4 linked regions of the Homo sapiens genome follow. The protein of the gene in region 4 interacts with the protein of the main gene of each other region in a pairwise test. Each region holds a gene or a part of one and is shown on either strand. Other genes may lie near its edges. The genes, in order: GMCL2, ARID5A, KRTAP11-1 and LIMS4.

The links.
Region 1: the proteins of LIMS4 (region 4) and GMCL2 interact in binary tests that used the Homo sapiens proteins (3 or more experiments, as listed by UniProt).
Region 2: the proteins of LIMS4 (region 4) and ARID5A interact in binary tests that used the Homo sapiens proteins (3 or more experiments, as listed by UniProt).
Region 3: the proteins of LIMS4 (region 4) and KRTAP11-1 interact in binary tests that used the Homo sapiens proteins (3 or more experiments, as listed by UniProt).

The regions. Positions count from the first base shown.
Region 1 is NC_000005.10:178,184,369-178,188,734, forward strand, and holds GMCL2 (germ cell-less protein-like 2), read right to left. Parts: upstream 3,004-4,366; 5' UTR 2,932-3,003; coding exon 1,351-2,931; 3' UTR 137-1,350; downstream 1-136. UniProt on the Homo sapiens protein: Possible function in spermatogenesis. Probable substrate-specific adapter of an E3 ubiquitin-protein ligase complex which mediates the ubiquitination and subsequent proteasomal degradation of target proteins.
Region 2 is NC_000002.12:96,543,087-96,546,901, forward strand, and holds part of ARID5A (AT-rich interactive domain-containing protein 5A), read left to right. Parts: intron 1-3,815. UniProt on the Homo sapiens protein: DNA-binding protein that may regulate transcription and act as a repressor by binding to AT-rich stretches in the promoter region of target genes.
Region 3 is NC_000021.9:30,879,972-30,883,216, forward strand, and holds KRTAP11-1 (keratin-associated protein 11-1), read right to left. Parts: upstream 1,610-3,245; 5' UTR 1,554-1,609; coding exon 1,062-1,553; 3' UTR 673-1,061; downstream 1-672. UniProt on the Homo sapiens protein: In the hair cortex, hair keratin intermediate filaments are embedded in an interfilamentous matrix, consisting of hair keratin-associated proteins (KRTAP), which are essential for the formation of a rigid and resistant hair shaft through their extensive disulfide bond cross-linking with abundant cysteine residues of hair keratins.
Region 4 is NC_000002.12:110,448,666-110,452,480, forward strand, and holds part of LIMS4 (LIM and senescent cell antigen-like-containing domain protein 4), read right to left. Parts: intron 3,354-3,815; exon of another isoform or gene 3,350-3,353; coding exon 3,199-3,349; intron 2,589-3,198; coding exon 2,496-2,588; exon of another isoform or gene 1,690-2,495; intron 1,203-1,689; coding exon 1,154-1,202; intron 486-1,153; exon of another isoform or gene 136-485; intron 1-135.

The sequences.
Region 1 (4,366 bases), on a different chromosome or scaffold from region 4:
TAAGAAAGAAAAAAAATTATTAGTAAATTCCAAAAGTTAAAAGGAGTTGGAAAAAAATCTAACTAGAAAGAAAAAAAATGTTGGTTTCAATTAAGGGGGGTTTTTTGGTCCATTTCATATAAGAGCTTACTTAATCTTTTTCCAAATGCGCATTTATTATTTGCACAGATACATACAAATTATTCCCATTTTAAAAGCCAGAATAAAAATATACATTAACCACAGAAGTACTTACTCTAACTGGAAAGAAAATGAACATGGCTCTATTCAAAACAGCAGTAAACACAAAAGGTCAACATATATAAATCATGACAAGTGTACATCTTATTTTTGACAAAAATAAGTTCCATTTTTACATTAATGCGTCATCAGCTTCTATGTTAGATCCTCTGACCTTATTTACATTTACTATGAAATTGCTGTTAGCATGTCACTCAAAGCCACTCATCTCAGAGGGTATCAAGTCCTGAGCTTAAGTAGGAAACAAAACTCCCAACTAAAATTTGAACATAAATAATTGTAAAGATCAGAGAATATTAAAATATTTAAAAGTATAATATCTGGTACATAAATAACTCAAAAACTAATAATAAAGGTGTACAGACTGTCAAAGAAAAGACCATGTAAGACAAGAAATATCCCTGGAATCAAACTGATTTTTCACGCATTCAAGATCATTTGAAGGTGTGAAGCTAACTTTCATTGTTCTTAAAATCCTAGGAAAGCCAAATTTTAAAAAATAGCATATGACAATGCTTAAGTTTAAAAAAAGTTTCTCAGCTTAGTCTCCAAACCAGGAAGAAAGTATTTAATGATTAAAAACAAGTATGAACTGGAAAGATATTAGACTAAAAGGAGGAATCATAATGAGCAGGTAAAAATATTAAAGGAAAGCTTTAAATGCCCCAGCTCAAAAGAGCATTTCTAATTGGCCATCCAAATTATTCTTTTAGATTATTTTAGCCAAATAAAAATAAATTTACAGATGGATAACTGAGGTCCACTAACATAAGGTAGAAACAAAGTTTAAGCTAAAAATTAAATCTATATTTTGTTGCAGATAAATGTGAGATTTACCTACAGTCATTTTCTGCTGATGCTGAATTAAAAGCATGAGTTGACATCGTACTGACAGAAATGGTTTGACAGATATTTTCTTGGCTTTAAAATGATTTTTTTTGTATATGCATAGAAATGCAATGAGGATAAGAATAGTCTTCTGTATTGTCCGTACAGTTCATAAGGCCTTTGTCATTGTTAGTCAACTTAGATGTGAATATCAGTAGGGCCATTAAATTAAAGCTGGCCTGAAAGTTTTCAAAGTGCTACTGTTTCCAACTGATGAGATCTTCAGTTTTCTGGATTTTCTGGGTGACGATTATTTTCAATTCCTTTTTCTGGTGATATATACAAGAAGTTACAGCAGATATATAAAGGGAAGGTCAGAAACCTGCTGTCCAAGTTCATCACCACTTGTTCCTGATCCTTTTTAAGTATAAGTATTTGATAGCCAGTTGTTCTACTACATACTAGTTTTCCACTACTATCAAAAGAAGCCAAGCGTAATCTAAATGCTATGCTCCTTCGAGGCCGTAAACTGACAGACCCGCTGCGTGGCTGATTCAGTGTATTGCGTTTGAAAATGATGTATCCATTGGTGTAAATTACAAGTAGGTCAAAGCCGAAGTTAAAACCCGTCCAACACCAGTAGTATTCACCATCTTTGGCAAGCTTTCTACCACACCTCATGCTATTTCCCTCTAGGTCTTCTTTATTGATTTCTTGAGGCCCTACCTCACGGTCTTGTTCTGCCCGCAGCATAGCAAACCACTGCTGTTTATACACAGAAGACAGCCATTCTGAAGGTACTATACCATCTTGTTCAATAATTCTTGCAGAAGCTAGGTCACTGATAATATATTGTAACCTTAAATGTCTGAATACTGACACAAATGGTTTTCCTGGTTCAGTTTCAAGAAAGGCCATACCTTCAAAATCTTTTCTCTGTTTAGAAAACCAGACATCTGTTTCTGTCAAAAGCTGTTTTAAAGATCCATTCCAAGAAGGCACAAGTTGAAGGAACATCCACTTTTTTAGAGTGGTGTATACATCCATCTCCACTTGCATCACAAATAAGTTAGAGGAACCAATGAGCTGTTTCATGACATTTATACCGAGTTCTTTAAAAAGTTTAACATTCTGGTGAGTCATCAAATTGTTTAGAAGCCATTCAAGGCACTTTTTCTTTACAGAATCTAATCCATAGATCTCTACTGATGTGTAATAACCGCATACAGTTTTCACATTAATTGTTTCCTTCATTGTCTCACCACACTGCTGTATTAAACCATCCAGCTGCAGCATACAAGCTGCTGCCAAAATGGCAACAACTCGACTGGGTTTTATCAAGACATCATCTCGATACAGTGAACCAAACGCAACCTGCAGTGCGTCTACATCAATGTTCTGGTCAGGAATCTCCAGTTCAATAATATTCATGCTGGATTCTTTCCAAGAACCACTGAACATACTAGAAAAGTAGCCAGATTGACATAAATATATTTTGTGTAATCGCCATTCTTCTCCTAGAGCACAAATCTTAATGTCACTGTTTTCACCATTCAAAAATAATGTTTGATAAATATATTTGGATGTACTCCTTAATTTTTTCCTTGCAGGGGTGTTGAGGAGCGGCTGCTGCTTGTCCCCCTCCTCCTCATGCTCCTCCCTGTGCGAGTCCGGGTCACAGTAGCGGCAGGCCCCGCTGCTCCGCTTGCGCTTGTGACTGCCCGGGCAGTAACAGAAGCCGTAGCTCGCCGCATCGTCTCCAGTGTCCGGCCTCCGGGCCGAGCCCCTGGCCCTGGCACCCTGTTCCTGCTGGGCAAGGGCTCGCCTCGGCTGGCCCAGCACCCGGCTGCTCGACGATCCCATGGGTCACGGCTCCCCAGGACTTCAGGGAGCCCAGAGGAGGGGGTCTCTGGCCATGGCCCGGCCGCCGCCGCCAGCCTTCCCCGAGCACAGGTGCCTACACCGCCACCTTCTCACGCGCAGCCCCAACCGTTGCAGCGGACACTGCCGCCTCCAACCTCCGCACCCCTCCCCCACAATTTTTTTTTTTTTTTTTTTTTGAGACGGAGTCTTGCTCTGTCGCCCAGGCTGGAGTGCAGTGGCGCGATCTCGGCTCACTGCAACCTCTGCCTCGCGGGTTCAAGTGATTCTCCTGCCTCAGCCTCCTGAGTAGCTGGGATTACAGGCGCCCGCCACCACACCTGGGTAATTTTTGTATTTTTAGTAGAGGCGGGGTTTCCCCATGTTGGCCAGGCTGGTCTCAAACTCCTGACTTCAGGTGATCCTCTTACCTTGGCCTCCCAAAGTGCTGGGACTACAGGCGTGAGCCACTGCCTCCGGCCTAAAACAATTTCTTTTAGAGACAAGGTTTCACTGTGTTTCTCCGGGTGGTCTTGAACTCCTTGGACAGCATTCTTCATTGCTGGAAGCAATTCTCATCTGGCAGCCAAAACCAAGGTCCGTTTTAGAAGGACCACTTCCCTAGGAGCAAAGTTTTATTTGCAAGACCTGACAAAGGAAAATGTGTGTACCAGACGCTTGAGCCTAACCAGTCCAATGTAAATTTGCGACCAGGCACAAAAATAAAATAAAATAATAAAATAAAATAGGCCAGGCTCGGTGGCTCATGCCTATAATCCCAGCACTTTGGGAGGCCAAGGTGGGTGGATCACATGAGGTCAGGAGTTTGAGACTGGCCTGGCCAACATGGTGAAACCCCATCTCTACTAATAATATAAAATTTAGCCAGGTGTGGTGGTGCACGCCTGTAATCCCAGCTTTTCGGGAGGCTGAAATGGAGAACTGCTTGAACCCAGGAGGCAGAAGTTGCAGTGAGCCAAGATCGCATCATTACATTCCAGCCTGGGCGACAAGAGCGAAATTCCGTCTCCAGAAAAAAATAATAAGATAAAATAAAATAGAATAAAGACTTGAAGTCAAGCCAGGTACGGTGGCTGCTCACACCTGTAATCCCAGCACTTTGGGAGGCCGAGGTGGGCAGATCACGAGGTCAGGAGTTCAAGACCAGCCTGGCCAATATGGTGAAAGTGACCATGGCTGGGTGAAATGATCACTGCAGCCGGTCTGGGAAGGCAGAAGCAAGCAGAGGGCCTGGGCAGGATAGGCAGGGATTCTCTGTGGGGAGGATCTGTGGAGACAGGGGCAGCAGGATTAGGATGTCGGAATTGAGGAGGCTTTTGTCCTTGGGGGATGGAGTGGAGAAGTGGGGCATGGTCCTGGAAATTTGCCCTGCAGCCTCACCAGGCCATCTGGAAGCTACTTGTTGGGAACCCCGTGT
Region 2 (3,815 bases), about 14 Mb from region 4:
CCCTGGTCTCTTTCTCTTTGACAAGCCTTAGGACTGGTTTCTCTCCAGGCTTACTTGGACTCTTCATGAAGGCCTTGCAAATGTTGATAACCACAGCAGCCACTGGACCAGAATCAGACTTTGTTTTGAATCCTGGTCCCCCAGGGAGGCAAGCAACTTACCCATAACCATTCTGGCTTCAGATTCCCCCTCTTTAAAATGGAATTCCTCCGGGACTGAGGGAGAGAATGTACAGGCACACCTTGCTCTATCATGCTTTGCTTTATTGTACTTCACAAATACAGCATTTTTTACTCATTGAAGGTTTGTGGCAACCCAGCATCGAGCAAGTCTATCGATGCCATTTTTTAACAGCACGTGCTCACTTTGTGTCTCGGTGTCACATTTTGGTGATTCTTACAACATTTCAAACTTTTTCATTATTATATCTGTTATGGTGATCTGTGATCAGTGATCTTTGATGTTCCTATTGTCATTGTTTTGGGGTACCATGAACCCCACCCACAAAGACAGTGAACTAAATCGATAAATGTTGTGTGTGCTCCTCCTCCACCTGCTCCATCGACCAGCATTCCCCATCTCTCTTCCTCTCTTTCTCTTCTTTGGCCTCCCTGTTGCCTAAGGCACAACAATATTGAAACTGGGCCAATTAACAGTCCTACAATGGTCTTTAAGTGTTCAAGTGAAAGGAGGAGTTACAGGTCTTTACTTTTAAATAAAAAAACTAGAAATAATTAAACTTAGTGAGGAAGGCAGGTCGAAAGCCCAGATAGGCCGAAAGCTAGGCCTCTTGCACCAGTTTGTCAAGTTGTGAATGCCAAGGAAAAGTTATTGAAGGAAATCAGAAGTGCTATTCCAGTGAACACGCATGGTAAAGCAAAACAGCCTTATTGCTGATAATGGAGAAAGTTTGAGAAGTCTGGATAGAAGATCCAACAAGCCATAACATTCCCTTAAGACAAAGCCTAATCCAGACCAAGGCTCTAAATCTCCAATGCTGTGAAGGCTGAGAGAGGTGAGGAAGCTGCAGAAGAAAAGTTGGAAGCTAGCAGAGGTTGCTTCATGAGGTTTAAGGAAAGACGCCATCACCATCACATAAAAGTGCAAGGCGAATCAACCAGGGCTGGTGTAGAAGCTGCAGCAATTTATCCAGAAGATCCAGCTAAGATCACTGATGAAGGTGGCCACACTACCACAGATTTTCCATGTAGATGAAACAGCTTTGTATCAGAAGAAGATGTCATCTAGGACTTTCATAGCTAAGGAGAAGTCAATGCATGGCTTCAAAAGACAGGCTGACTCTCTTGTTAGGGGCTAATGCAGCTGGTACTGGTGACTTTAAGTTGAAGCCTGTGCTCATTTATCATTCCAAAAAACCTAGAACCTTTAAGAATTATGCTAAATCTACTCACTCTGTGTTCTAAAAATGAAATAACAAAGCCTGGATGACAGCACATCTGTTTATAACATGGTTTACTGAGTATTTTAAGCCAACTGTTGAGACCTACTGCTCAGAAAAAAGGATTCCTTTCAAAATATTATTGTTCATTGACAAGGCAACCGGTCATGCAAGAGCGCTGATGAAAATGTACCAGGAGCTGCATGTTGTTTTCATGCCTACTAGCACAACATTTATTCTAGAGCCAAGGATCAAGGAGTAATTTTAAGTTTCAAGTCTTATTATTTAAGAAATACATTTTGTAAGACTGTAGCTGCCATAGATAGTGATTCCTCTGATGGGCAAAATACATTGAAAACCTCCGGAGAGCATTTCAGGTACATTTGTGGTTCGTGGGAGGAGGTCAAAATATCCAAGCATTTGGGAGAATTTGATTCCAACCTTCCTGGATGACTTTGAGGGCTTCAAGACTTCAGTGGAGAAGACACTGCAGATGCAGTGGAACCAGCAAGAGAACTAGAGTTAGAAAGCAGAGCTTGAGGATGAGACTGAATTGCTGCAATCTCATGATCAAACTTGAGTGGATGAGGAGTTGCTTTTTATGGGTGGGCAAAGAAAGTGACTTTTTTTCTTCTTTTTTTTTCTTTCCTTTTCTTTTCTTTTTCTTTTTCTTTTTTTTTTTTTTTTTTGAGACAGAGTCTTGTTCCATCGCCCAGACTGGAGTACAGTGGAGTAATCTCAGCTCACTGCAGCCTCCGCCTCCTAGGTTCAAAGGATTCTCCTGCCTCAGCCTCCTGAGTTGCTGGGACTACTGGGACCTGCCACCACACCCAGCTGACTTTTGTGTTTTTAGTAGAGACAGGGTTTCGCCACGTTGGCCAGGCTGGTCTCAAACTTCTGACCTCAGGTGATCCACCCACCTTGGCCCCCAAAGTGCTGGGATTACAGGCGTGAGCCACCGCGCCCATCCTAAAGTGGCTTCTTGAGGTGGAATCTACTGGCGAAGATGCTGTGAACATTGTCAAAATGACAACAAAGGATTTAGAATGTTACAGAAACTTAGTTGATAAAGCAGCAGCAGGGTTTGAGAGGAGGGACATCAGTTTTGAAAGTTTTGCTGTGGATAAAATGCTGTCAAAAATAGCATCACATGCATGCCATGGAGAAGTCTTTCATGAAAGGAAGAGTTGCCAGGTGCAGTGGCTCATGCCTGTAATCCCAGCACTTTGGGAGGCCGAGGTGGGTGGATCATGAGGTCAGGAGTTTGAGACCAGTCTGGCCAATATGGTGAAACCCCGTCTCTACTAAAAATACAAAAATTAGCCGGGCTTAGTGGCACGCACCTGTAGTCCCAGCTACTCGGGAGGCTGAGGCAGGAGAATCACTTGAACCTGGGAGGCGAAGATTGCAGTGAGCCAAGATCACGCCACTGCACTCCAGCCTGGGCAACAGAGCAAGATTCTGACTCAAAAAAAAAAAAAGAGTTAATGGATGTGGCAAACTTCATTGTTGTCTTATTTTAAGAAATTGCCACAGTCACCCCAGCCCAAGAAACCACCACCCTGAAATCAGTCAGCAGCCATCAACATGGAGGGAAGACATAAGAACACCTACCAAAGCAGGACCACTCAGTGGCCAAGGATTCTACCCTGTGCCTCTGAGTACCACTGGCCCCTGGCTTACGCTGGTTTGGGTTTCTTGTTCCTGAGGAGATTCTTTTTCTGTCTGGGATGGAAGGGAAATCTCATAGGTTCCTAACAATAAGGATGTCCTGGGAGGGAGTGAACCAATTCATACTTGATTAACAAAAGAACAAAGGACAGAAAGAAAAGGTTGTCAGAAGATGTGGGTTCCTGGTCTGGTATCTGCTGCCAGCCTGCTGTGTGGCCTCAGGCAGTTTCCAGTGGTTGTGGTTTTTGCAGTGGCAGAGGTGTTGCGTTTTTGCAACCATCAGCACATGGTGGTTCTTAGTAAAATACAGCCCATGGCTTCTCCTGCCCACCACGCAGGGTTGTTGTGAGCCTTGCTCATTCCAGCTTGGCACCTGCTGTGTGGGGTATGGGAAGCCTCACCGAACTATCAGGGAGCCCCAGGAGCCACAGGCAGTTCAGCCAGGATGGCTGTGAGTAGCCTAGGGCGAGGGAGGAGCTGCCCGTGGCCAGGGGCCAGAGGAGGCCACCCAGAGGAAGGCACTTGTCAGCAGAGACCTGAGGGGTCACCAGGACCCTTGTAGGTGAGGAGAGCATGTGGCCTTATTAGGGCAGTTAGAACTCTGCAGATGCTCAGGGAAAGGTCAGATATTCCTGAATATTCCCAGAGGAACTACTACCCAGGGACCCCTGTGTTGCTTTGGGGCCACAGCCATGGGATCCTTTAGCTCTCCAGTGAGACTAAGCTGCTTCTCAACTCTGTGTCT
Region 3 (3,245 bases), on a different chromosome or scaffold from region 4:
AAAAATTAGCCGGGCGTAGTGGTGAACGTCTGTAATCCCAGCTACTCTGGAGGCTGAGGCAGGAGAATCACTTGAACCCAGTAGGCAGAGTTTACAGTGAGCCAAGATCGTGCCACTGCACTCCAGCCTGGGCGACAGAGTGAGACTCCATCTCAAAAAAAAGAAAAAAAAGAAAAAGAAAAAGAAAGAAAGAAAAGAAAAGAAAAATCATAGCCCTTACTTCACCGCACAGCTGAAGACTCTCTCTGAACAAGTAAAATATAAGATAATCCTTGGTTTGGTCACAGGGCATAATGATTAAGCCCATATTCTAGGCTCAGGAAAAAAAAAATCAGACCCTGATCAGCAAAGACTCTTGCAAACAAGGAGCTCTGTTGAGAAAACTAAATACCACCTGTTCTCACTAATAAGTAGGAGCTAAACATTAGGTACACGTGGACATAAAGATAAAAACAATAGACACTGGCAACTGGAAGAGCGGGGAGTGAGGAAGAGGAAAAGGGTTGGAAAACTACCTATTGGGTACTATGTTCAATACCTGACAGATGGGTTCAATCATACCCCAAACCTCAGCATCACACAGTATACCCCTGTAGCAAACCTGCACATGTACCCCGCAAAAACTAAATTAAAAGTTGAAATGTTTAAAAAAGAATTCTGCTGAGACATACATTTGCAATGCCAACTAATGCAGGTTTATTGAGAAATACATGGTGAGACAAGCTCTGTTTTTGTGAGACACAAAAGCAGAGGCCAGGAGATACAGCAGCAAGGTGAAAACATGTCAAAAGCATCAGAGACTGGGGTGTGGATGGTAAAGCTTCTGGACACATCCAGAGGCATACACAGCACCAGTGAGCAACCCTTAAAACAAGCTTAGGGCTGGCCAGAAAAATTTTAGAGTGCTAAAGACAGCGTGTGCATGGATAGTAGCCAGCAGTCAGGCGGTCACAAGAAGGGTCAGCTATGAAGAGCTATTCAGGGACAAGCAGCATGCTGGAAGATCCTGGAAACAGCTGGCAGGTCGTGGAGTCTTGATTCGCTCACTGGCTCCTACACACTTAGCAGGTTCTTCGGCAGCTGGACACGCAGGACTGCTGATACGTCCTGGAGACCCCACAGGCTGGCTGGCAGACAGTAGAGACTCCTCCCACTGGTTGGCAGACAGTAGAGATGCCGCCCACTGGTTGGCAGACACTGGAGATGCCTCCCAGGGGCTGACATCCACTAGAGACAAAGGTGAGCGGCCGGCTGTAGGTAGTTGAGCAGGGGTTGGAAATACAGGTAGTTTGTCGAGAGCAAGTCACCTGGCAAGGGTTGGAGACACATGAAGTTCGCCGGTAACAGGTTGGCTGGCAAGCAGTGGGCTCACAGCAGGTCTCTTGACAGTGGTCCAGGAGCCAAGAGCCAGTCTGGAAGGAACTGGGCAAACAGATGCCGCCCAGGCAGTCAGCATCAGTGGTGGAAGTCGTGGTAACTTGGGCCACTGGAACAATGCAGCGTCCTCCAATGGGCCTGGAAGAGCAATTTCTTGTGGAGCAGTTGAAGGACATGATGTCAGACAGAGGGCTGCAGGTAGCTTGCTGAAGTTACCTCCTGAGTTGTGAATGTCACTCCAGACTCCTGAGCTTTTATATATCCTTGCTGGTGGGTGGGGCTCTCTCCCTGGTCTCCGTGGCTTCTTTGGCTCAGACCAGTTTGCCTTAGAACATCTTGTGAATCTACACATTAATTGTCTCTTAAGAAGCCTTCACCCTCATAAAGAAAGTTTAGTAGTTTGGTAACTAAATCACAAGTCTTCTGTACTGTACTTAGTCTGATTAAGAAGGCTGGTTGGCAGCTTCAAAGCTATTGGTCATCCCAGCCCACACGTTGTCCCTCATTCATCTTGCTTATGATGAGTGTTGACCTGACACTCATCCTACCAAAGATGCCACCATCCTACCATCACACACTCTCTCCCTCCCTACCAGGACCAATTACAAGCCCATGCCCTGTTTCATTTGTCACTGGACTTAATATCTTTTAAACATAACTTAATCAGTCACTCTACCACACCTAACGGAGCTCCTCATTGGGAAGGTGCCTCCTTGAATATGTTTCAAGACAACAGTGACAACACTTGACAGGAACAAAGGGCACAGAGACTTGTATCCAAAGTCTGAGCTGGCTCTCAAAATTAATCAACTGACTCAAACAAGATGCCCGTGGGAAGGCTAGAGGGCAGTGGGACCCACCCTTTATGTTCAACCAACAAAGCAAATTAGAAGCTAACTAAGTGCAACTGTATTTGTAGCCAAGACCTTTTCTAAGTAAATTGGATGAGCTTTATTCCTAAAATGTTTAATTTAATAACAGTGGATAATAGTGACTCCTGGGTCTCATTAATATGCCAGTGGAAAAGGCTTAGTTAATTTTTAAAATTATCATAATGTTAATTTGAAAGGGTACAGTGTCTTTCTCCCAATTTGTTCAATATGTTCAAAAGATATTTATTTTCACACATATAGATAGAATGCATTTTAATTATGGACAAACTAAAGGCTCTTCAAGGTCATTGTCTCCATCAGGGATAAGGGGGAGGCAGAGCTGGGGGAAGCAGGCACTTAATCAATGTTTGGTAATGAAGAGATGTGTGAAGAGTGTGCTATATTTAATTATTCTTTTTATGCTTGGGGAAGCTATAGGGATATCACTCTATTTTATTTCATCTCACTACAATATAATGAATTTTAAACACCAGAATGATGGCTCGTTTGGGTCCACCTGAACATAGATGAATAAACTGCCTCAACTCTGGCAAAATAAGCAACTTCAACATCGCTTCAAGTGGTCAGTGGTATTTCTGTCCCAAAACAGCTGTAGCATCTGACTCATTTTTAAACTAGCTTACATGAGGGAGCGTAAGGGAATAAAATGGATTTCCATGTATTTGAGGGCTACAGGTAAGCTATGTTTTAAATATCCACAAAGCAAACAGCGTTATGTCAGGACTCATCAGAAATCCCTAATTGGAAACTAACGACACACCCAAAGAAGAGGGTGCTGTGAGCAATAGCATGATTCCCAGATATCAGACCTCAATGTCCTGACCCTCCCTCAGTGACTCACCATGTGTTCCCAGGAACGGGGTGAAATTAATGAGATGACTACTTTCCACAATGTTGTGGCTATGCTCTTCCCACCACAGAGGGTATCTTAGTTGGTGTTTGAAGGCCTGAGTCCTTGGCCCTAGGGCCTGGCTT
Region 4 (3,815 bases):
GATCATCTCTAGGTTAATTATAATGCCTAGTACAATGTAAATGATATGTAAATAGTCATTATACTGTACTATTTGTATTGTTATATTGTTATTTTTCTCTAAATATTTTTGATCCATAGTTGGTTGAATCCACGGATGTTTGGATCCAGCCCCTGGATACGGAGGGCTGACTTTAATCTTCCCCCATCCTTAAGTATCCTGTGAAGTTATAAATGATGTGTGCCATGTCTTACACCAGCAACTGTGCCCCCTTGGCCTGGGCACATGTGGCAACTGTCCATGCATCATGTTGTTTAGGTGAGCTTGCTGTTTCTGTCCCTACTGCTGTTGGCCCAACTAGGAAATATGAACTAGGTAAATAATTTTCAAAAATCCAGACATTAACTTATTTGCCTCTGTAGGAGTCTTTTTTCCAGAGCTGATGATAACAAGACAGTTTCCTCTGCAGCTTCTTTCACCTGGCATCTATTTCACAGAGGAGGGAGGTAAGTTTTATTTTCAATGGCACTAAAGATTGTTTTCCTGGATTGTTTTCACAAACTGCACATGAACAGTTTCAAAAGTATTTCCTGAATTAGGTGATGTCTGCAGGCAGCCATGAATCATGCTGAAAACAGTATCGTTCAAAACTTTGCCAGGAAGTCTCTGGCAGAAGTGTGTTAGCGAGTCTTAGCAAACACAGCTGCTTCCTTTCTGTTCCAATCAATCAGCCCAGCCTAATTACCACAGTACAAGGGTGGTAAGTCCTAGATATGCTTGCTGATAACTGCCAGCTTTTAGCATGTGCAGGTTAAAGTGCCTCTTGCTAACTACGATAGCAGATTAAACTCTTCCTAATAAACGTTGTTCTAGAGCTTCCTGAAACTGGACACAGAAACAGGTCTTAGGGTCCACCAGGGACAGTTCCCATGATTGCTGGCATACAACACTACAGCAGTGGCCAAAAGTAGTGTCATAAATCAGTAACAAATCCAACTCTTTGATATTATCATCTTACTGCTACAGATTACTTGGAAAATACGCCAAAGATAGAGAAAAAGTAACTGATAACGATCACATTTCAAACCATAGCAATCACCAACCTGAATTTCCACATTCCCCAAGTGTTTTTGTGTCAAAGTGGCACCAATCTAAAACTCACACAGATACTTACCATCACCTTCTATAACACGATTGCAGTGGAAGCAAACATCACCAAATAGCTGAAAATAAAAAAAGGTGGTCAAAGTTCAAGATGTGTTAGAATTTTTAGAACACTGAACATTTAAAAATAGCTGGCTATCTAAATTGAGGATTTATCACTACTAGAGAAAATTAGTAAAAGTTCTTTGACAAGTTTTTACTTCTTACAATGAAAGTAATTCACTCTCATCAATTAAAAGAAAAACTTCCCGGATGACAGTTTGAACACCCAAATAAGTGATGCAAAATATAGAAATCTGTGAGTCCATATGGATAAGAAATAGATAAATGAATAAACCTATAGACGGGAGAGGAGGTGGGTTCTTGCTCAGGCAGAGCGCTGAGGACCAGACTATGGGTGGAGGGCATGGGGCTGGAGAAGTATTGTTTGCAGCTGGCGCAGAGACAAGAATCATCAAGGGGTGCTGAATCTAGGGCGGGTTGATGAGGAACAGGACATTTCCATGGTCATAGAATGATTGCCCACAGATTGCTTCTTTCTTACAGAGGAGGGAAGGAAATTGTAATTCACAGTGATGTTATCAGCCAGCACCATGCCTGGGAGATCACCAGTGCAGGAGAGGTATAAAATGCTCCAGGGGCAAGGTTCTGAGAAGATGCCCTGCCACTGTATGAGGCCACAACCTGCTGTGTATAACCTCATCTAAGCACAGAGAAGCACCAGGTGAACCCAAGTGGAAAGTAGTCTATTAAAAAGGGGTTAGGGGCCCTCTGCATCCCTCCAAAATGTCAATGTCATCAAAAATTTTAAAAGACTCTGGAAACGTTCCAGATTTAAGAAAGCTAAAGAAACATCACAGCCCTAGGCTGGGTCCAGTCTGGGAGTGGAAAAAATGCTGTGAGGATATTACTGACTCAAGTGATAAAACTGGAATAAATGGGTTAAAGTACGGTATCAATATTGATAACTACAATTATGTTAGAGAGTCCCATATTCTTGGGAAATATACACTGAAGTATTTAGGGGTAAAGGAGTATGATGAACTTATTGGCAAATGCTTTAGAAACAGCCATCGTACTTGTATATAATATTTATGTAAGTATGTGTTTTACACAGGAAGACTGAGCGTGGGAAATGATAAAGCAAACTGTGGACTTGAATGAAAGACATACAGGTATTCTTTGTATTTTTATAGTTAGCTTCTGAGTCTGAAATTATTTCCCAAATAAAAAGTTAAAAACAAATCTCTACTGAACAATGTACATCTTCCAAGAGATTTCCTTGTAGCTAAACTACTGATAAGCTTAGGTTCATAAAAGTCTATCTAGCATCCAGTGACTAAGGTCAATACCTGGTTATAGTGAGTTTCACAATACGCCAGGCCTTTCCTCTCATAATGGCGATGTCCAAGAAAGGGTTTCTCACACTTGGCACAAACAAAATGCTGAAAAAAAATTGCTATAGGTCATTTTTGAATTGCCATATTTTATATCTAATAAAGTAAACACCAGAGTTAACCTATTTTCAGAGAAGATGAAGGAAAGTTTGAGACAGTCATTTCATTTGGCCATAGGTGGCCCCATAACATAATACTTCTGCAGTTGTAATTCAGGTGTCTGTCTTTGAAGGTTACTTTAAGACACAGCCTATTATAATAGCCCAAAAAGAGAATAGAGGTGAGCATCTCAGTAGCACCTATAAAGGAGGAGCTGCTGCTGGATACAGACCATGGCACTTCCTGCTTCAAGAAGGCTTTAGGAGCAAAAGTGCACATCTTGTATCATTACTGAGACATTCACAAAAGCAGTGTACCTTCTATATTCTTAGCTGTCAGCAAAGTCAATTGTCTTTAAAATGTCCACGTTTAATCTTTAGAGTCTCCTAATCTTGCCAGGACACCTGAATCATGAAGATTTGAAAGTACTGGTTATCCCTGAATCATGGAGATTTGAAAGGATTGGTTACCCCTTAATCATGGAGATTTGAAAGTATTGGTTACTCCTTAATCATGGAGATTTGAAAGGATTGGTTACCCTTTACCATTTAGAACTCACCTCCACATGCCACTGCTTGCCCATGGCGTTCACCACACGCCCTTCGATGGGCCGTCGGCAAGCGCCACAGATGGGGACCCCCATTTTATCATGGCATGGCAGGCAGTATAGCTCCCCTTTCAGCTCCTGTGCATCGGCAGTCAGATCCTTCCTGTCTGTGAGAAAGACACCCAGCTTAATACTAAGAGAGAAAAATGGCCAACCGATGGGGCTAGCACACTTTTTAGAAGGTTTTTAAAGATATTACTATGACAATCCCTGCAAATTTCTTTTTTCCCCTTTAGAGGTGATCAGAATAACCTGAATTAATAGGCCCGAACAGGTTTCAGACTCCTACCAAAACATCTGTATCTTAAAAGGATAAGATGCAAGACTAGGTCAGATACATACCACCACACCAGTCATATTCATAATTTCCTTCTTGTATTATCACATTCCATTTTAGTCCATTTGTCTTCCTTTAAAAGCTACAGGGAATAATCACAGTGCTGAGGGTAGACTCAGTAATACTACCTGCTATGGTGTGACTGTGTCCCCAAAGTTCATGATCCCCAATGCAGAGGTGTTGAGAGGTAGGACCTCTAAGGGGTGATTACATCATGAAGGCTCTGCCCTCA